Linked DNA regions of Homo sapiens: region 2 is linked to region 1. The links come from fine-mapping of genetic effects on gene expression. A gene starts in region 1. The other region holds a variant in brackets. All regions are shown on one strand. Distances are from middle to middle. Region 1 holds the start of NAB2 (NGFI-A binding protein 2). Region 2 holds the start of STAT6 (signal transducer and activator of transcription 6).

Region 1 (2,897 bases):
TCATCTTCCACTAGACTCTCGGGCGAGGTCCCTAATAGACGGCCCCAGGAAGGGTATCGTCTTTGTCACACAAAATTCCCAGGCAGGGCCTCATCCTCAGCAAACAGAGGACAAGTGGAGGAATCCCTGCCTGACCTACGCGCTGACAAAAGCCGACGCGTCTAATCAACACGCGCACCTAAGTGGTGGCGTGCAGCATAACCCTCCCATTCCTGTTTCCCAAACTTTCCAGGCTAGCATGGAGGCCTGGGTTTCTGAGAGCGACCCCCTCAGATTATTCCATTGGGGCTGAGGAGGGGCGCGGGGATATCTAGGAGATCCCTGCAGAGCCCCACGCTCTCAGGCCCGCCTTAAGTGCACACTATACGGGAGTCAGATGCACGCACAGGAGAAGCCGCACAGCCCAGCCTTCGCTAACTTTTCCCGGCTCACTGCTAACATTCACACGTCCAGCACCACAAGGCCTGAGTATGGGCAACGGGCGTCCCCGTAGTTGTTTAGGCGCGTGTGCACGTCCGTGCGCTTCTGTGTCTTTGTGTACTTGTGCGTGGTTGTGAAACTCCTCTCTCAGCTCGGAGGGGTGGGGGAGAGAAGGAATGTCGCCGGCGGGGCGCTCACGTGGGTACGTGGGCGCCAAGAGGGCCGGCTGTGCATCCGGCGTGGGCGGCACAGAACGACCTCGCCCCGCCCGCTGGGTCCCCAAGCCCGCCCTGCACAGCCGGGCCTCGGTCACCTCGGTCCCCAATTCGGCGCCCCGGCTCTGAATCCCCGCCCCCGCCTCCTGCTCCACACCCCCTCCCCCCCCGTCTCCGCCTCTCCCAGTCTCTAAGCCGCGGCGTCTCCGCGGCCGAGAGGCCCCAGCGCCCGCCTCCCCGGCCCCCGCCCCCACCCCCGCCCCCGGCTCTGCCCACGCCCTCCGCCCGCCAGCCCGGCAGCCAGCGCAGCTCCGGGCCTCGCTCCCTGTGCGTCCTGCGGGGGCGGAGGCGCGGAGAGGCGGCAAGCGCAGCCGGGGAGGGTGGGGGGGCAGAGGCACAGACAGAGGCGCGGAGGCTCGGAGAGAGAAGACGTGGAGGGAGGGACAGAGCCTGGACAGCGGTGGACACGGCATCGTGCGCGGGGAAGAGGGCAGCACGCAGCAGGCGCCGAGCGCCGGGCACCGAGAAGGGCAGCCCGGGTGATCTCCGGCCGTCCATGCACAGAGCGCCTTCCCCCACAGCCGAGCAGCCGCCGGGCGGAGGGGACAGCGCCCGCCGGACCCTGCAGCCCAGACTCAAGTTAGTGGGCAAAGGGAGGCAGCGGGGAGTGGAGATGGGTGGAGCTGGACTTGGGAATGGGGTCCAGAGGGCGGAGGTCGAGGGGAGGACGTGGGGAAGCAGGACGGGGGTGGGGGGTGGAGACTGATGGAAAAGGGGGTGCGTCTTCGAATTAGGGGGCCCTGGGAGCAGGCAAGCATCTGATGAAGCTGGATATGAAAGAGTAGTACCCAAATCTCCATTCCTGGTTTACTCTGTGGGCTCCATCTGGCCTAAGAGCCCCCTGCAAAGAATGTGGGAGCCTCCAAGCACCAGGGGATGCCCTGGAGCTCGAGCTGGCATCAGTGCGGAAGGTGGGGGGACGCTCAGTTGCCTCAGTCCCTCGTTGGCACGGAGCGCGCGGGCCCCCGGTGCCTTTGAGTTAAAGGAGCATCAGCGGGGGAAAGGGGGGGTGACGAGGGAGGCAGGGAGGCCTTAGGCGTTCCTTCCCATATCTGTCCCTTTATTCACAGAGCGGGGAGGGGAGTTTCAGTGTGCAGCCCCTTCATCAAGAGGCCTTGAGCCGCTCCCCCACTCCACTTGAAGATGCGGGTGGAAAATATGGGAGAGGAGAGTAGGCGGGAGCCCCTGGGCGGTTTTCGCCTACAGACGCTACCACTGTGGGAGTGTGTGTGGGCGGAACGGCCCCGGAGCAGAACAATTGCGCCCCTCCCCCTGCCACGGCCCCTGAGCTGAAGGAAAAGGCTGACCGAGGAAGTGGGGAGTGTCACTGCTAGGAGAGGGGCCACTGAGGAGCACTGGGCAGCCTGGAAGGGTGGAGAGGTTCTGAGGGGAGAGAGGAAGCGTGCGTTAAGAATGCTTAACCAGGCCGGGCGGGCCCGGTGGCTCAGGCCTGTAATCCCAGCACTTTGGGAGGCTGAGGCGGGTGGATCACGAGGTCAGGAATTCGAGCCCAGCCTGACCAACATGGTGAAACCCCGTTTCTACTAAAAATACAAAAATTAGCCGGGCATGGTGGCGGGCGCCTGTAATCTCAGCTACTCAGGAGGCTGAGGCAGGAGAATCGCTTGAACCCGGGAGGCGGAGGTTGCAGTGACAGCGCCACTGCACTCCAGCCTGGGTGACAGAGCGAGACTCCGTCTCAAATAAATAAATAAATAAATAAATAAATAAATGCTTAACCCCTGGGAAAAGCTGAGCGGAGAAGAGTAAGGCACCACCTGGCTCACTGAGTGGGAAAGCCAGGGAAGGTGCCACACCCTCCCTTTTAGCCACCTGGGGCTGTGGCCCCTTCACAGGGAATGAAGCTGGCCAGCAGCGTCCACTGTGGGGGAGACTGGGCTCCTACATTCACTTTAGTATGGGTGACTTCACTTCAGTGTTGAGACTGCTGAGTGTTTAGAGGGGAAGGTGAGGATTGTGTTTTGGGGGAGAGGGAGGTCCAGCCATCCCAGGTCGGTGCTGGTCAGCCTCAGCGCTCAAGTTCTTCTTGCCCCAGACCAAAAAGATAAAAGCTGAAGATAAGGTTGTAAGACGCTTCGACTCCTACAGACACAGGCCACTGACTTTTGGGGCTTCGGGCCAGTCTAGGACGGCACTGGCTTGTCCATGCCTCTGAGCAGTGCCTGATTCTGAGAGTCTGTA
Region 2 (2,897 bases), 21 kb after region 1:
GTCCCAGCTACTGGGGAGGCTGAGGTGACAGAATGGCGTGAACCTGGGGGGCGGAGCTTGCAGTGAGCAGAGATCGAGCCACTGCACTCCAGCCTGGGCGACAGAGAGAGACTCTGCCTCAAAATAAATAAATAAATAAATGAAATAAAATAAAAATGAAAACCACAAGGCTAGATGATGAAGAGGATGGGAGAGTAATAACAGCTACTATTTGTTAAGCACTTACTGTGTATGAGGCATTACACTCAGTGTATTATCTCCTTCAGGCCTCACGACACTTTTTAAAATATATAATATCCCATTTTATAGATGAAGAAACTGAGGCTTAAGGAGTTTCTCTACTCTGCCCAAGGCCACTCAGTAAGTGAGTTTGGAAAGCAGGCTTTGAATCTGAGTGGGGATTAACCATCGCACTGTGTTGTTAGGATCCCTTCCAGGGGCAAATCTGATCATCCTAAGAAGTGGGGGAAGGTGGGAGGAGACTTGAAGGAGGAGAGGTGGAAAAGGAAAGTAGAGAGAACTAAGGAAGAGGATGGAAGAGACTGGAAAAAAGGCGGGTTTAGTAAGCTAGGAGGAAAGAGCCTAGAAGAGAGAGGAAGCTGGAGGGCTAGAAGGCAAAGATGAGAGACGAAAACAGGTAGAAAGGAGAGGAGGGGACAGGGAAGTAGAAGAGGGGGTTGCATCCCCATTTCCAGGTTCAGGGAGGACTGGGTAACCAGTGGTTTCCCAGGGGCCTCTCAGTTCACGTTTCTCATAATATCCCTCTCCCAGAGATGAGGGAGAGGATGGGATGACAACTCCCCAGGTCTCCCCAAACCCAGTAACCCCAAGTCCTCCTGTTGCACGTTCAGCCTCTCACCTCTCCCAGGCCTCTCAGAGGGATGGAAAATGGAGAGGTCCCTTCTCTGGACGTTTCTGCTCCAAGACCTTCATGCCCCTCTTTCCTCCAGTGCCCACTTACCCCAGCTCTTTTCTCCTCAAGGCAGAATCCTTACCCCTCCTGCTCAGGTTCCTCCAATAGGCCTTTCTCTAGCCCAAGAGAGAAAGGTCCTCTGGAGTGAGTGGGCACCGCTTTCCTCTGCATCCCCTTGCAGAGTGACCAGCCTCCTGGCATGGCCCTGGCTAGAAATATCCAACCCCTCTTCTTCCCCAGCCATCAGGAGGACACATTTCTCCCCACCCCAACCCATAACAAGGCTGGGTCGATTGGCTTGACCAGGACAGGGGCACCTTTTGTCTTCAGCCCCTTGAAGGGGAAGGGAGGGAGGAGCCACGGCGTGAGGGGCGGGGCCAGTGTTACCTCCCAAACTCAGAAGGGAAGCGCAAGGTCTG[G/T]GATCCTCGTCCGCCCGCTTGGTGGCCTAAACTCGCTTATCTCAACCCCTATCTGCCCGAGTCCTCTGATTGTGGGACCACAGGATCGAAAGTTAAAACAGCTTCTCTGAGTTGCCCAATGCGTGAATGTGGCGGTGGGGGCAGGCGGGGAGGTGGAGCCAGTTCAGCACGAGGAGGGTTAACTCGGCGCCGCCGCTGGGAAATCTCAGCGTCTACAGCAGCCAAGCGTGGAGCAGTTTTGAGGGGGAAATTCCCCCTCGTCTGGGCCACCATGAGGTCTACATCTGGGGCTTGCTCACGCCCCAGCCACACCCTTGAACAGGAACCTTTAGTGGAGGGCAGGATAGGGGTTTAACAAGGATCCACTGCCCTCTGGCATCAACCTTCCAGGGAGGGGCGGCCACTTCCCCCGACTCAGGGCAGAGGGGCACTCCTTCACCTCCTTTCCCTGACTTTCCATGGCCCTGGGGGTGCAGGGGTGAGGCTGTGAAAACGTGACCCATGGGGGAGGGGAGTACTGAGGCCTGGACCCTCCCAGATTCCTCCAGGAGTTCGAAACTGCTAAAACCCAGTGCCACCAGCCACCAACACTAGCTGAAACCATCTCTTGGGGACCATCCACCCAGCCAGGGGAGGATCCCGAGAGCTCCCCCCACGAATCCACCCCCATGCACTCATAGAGGCCCCCGCACCCACCTCGGAGGCAACCCCTCACCTCGGCAACCCCTCTGCTGTCTTCTCCCTTTCTCAGCGGGCACTTCCAGGCCCCATAGGTCTGTAGCTCTGTCCAGCGAGTTCAAGGCTGGCCCTGCTAGCACCTCCCCCCTTCCACCACCACCACCAAAAAGAAAAATAAGATAAAGCACACACATACATACACACACACACACACACACACACACACACTCCTCTCCCGTCCTCCCTCTTCAGTGTAAGCAGTGGCTGCCCCAGCCCGCTGTTTCCGGCTTCTCCTTCTACCCAGGTCCCTCCCTGGAGCTCTGACGACACAGAGAAGAGAAAGTGGGCTGGAGGAGGAAGAGGAAGAAAGTGGGGTGAATATGTGTGCCTCCTGTGCCGAGTGGGGGAACACGTGGGGGATCAGGACTGGGGTCCAGGCCTTGGAGCCAGGCTTGGGGGGAGGCTGACCCCCACTTACTCTGTCCCCCTCAAAAGCATCAGCTTTTCTCCAGAAAGTCACCCAATATCAAACAGAGATTTGCCACCCCTAACTGCCTGGCTCCCAAACTCAAACTCTGCCAAGGGCTGGGGTTTGGACCCACAAGGGACTGGGCTCCCCAGGGCCTCAGGAAAAGTAAATCCCTCTGGACTCTGCGCTCCCTCCAGTGGAGGACCCTAAAAAGCCGCCAGGGAGCTCGATGCCAGCCAACTCCTAGGTCCCCCTCCCTTCCGGCAGGGAACGCCTTAGAGGTCGGTCTCGTGACCACTGACGGGAGGGAGTGGGGGAGGGGAACCCTCAGCTCAGAATTCTGGAAGACTCTAGGAGTCCCTTGGACTGAAGCTGGTCTTTGCTCTCTCCTCACAGGGCACCCCTCCTGAGACTGTGG

The links. PIP is the estimated chance that this variant, and not a neighbour inherited with it, causes the effect.
Region 2: its variant is fine-mapped to the expression of NAB2 in whole blood (TOPMed, PIP 0.95).

Annotation. Positions count from the first base shown.
Region 1 is chr12:57,088,081-57,090,977 of GRCh38, forward strand. NAB2 (NGFI-A binding protein 2) reads left to right here and starts at 1,034. Exons shown (of 7, transcript NM_005967.4): 1 at 1,034-1,274. The coding sequence starts at 1,192. It also overlaps a transcript of NEMP1 not described here. RefSeq lists an enhancer at 306-355 and a silencer at 626-1,245.
Region 2 is chr12:57,109,082-57,111,978 of GRCh38, forward strand. It overlaps STAT6 (signal transducer and activator of transcription 6), which reads right to left and starts at 2,281. Exons shown (of 22, transcript NM_003153.5): 1 at 2,048-2,281. LOC124902946 (a long non-coding RNA gene) reads left to right here and starts at 1,641. Exons shown (of 2, transcript XR_007063334.1): 1 at 1,641-2,760; 2 at 2,876-2,897. RefSeq lists enhancers at 1,407-2,354, 2,355-2,897. The variant G/T (reference allele first, on the strand shown) is at 1,333.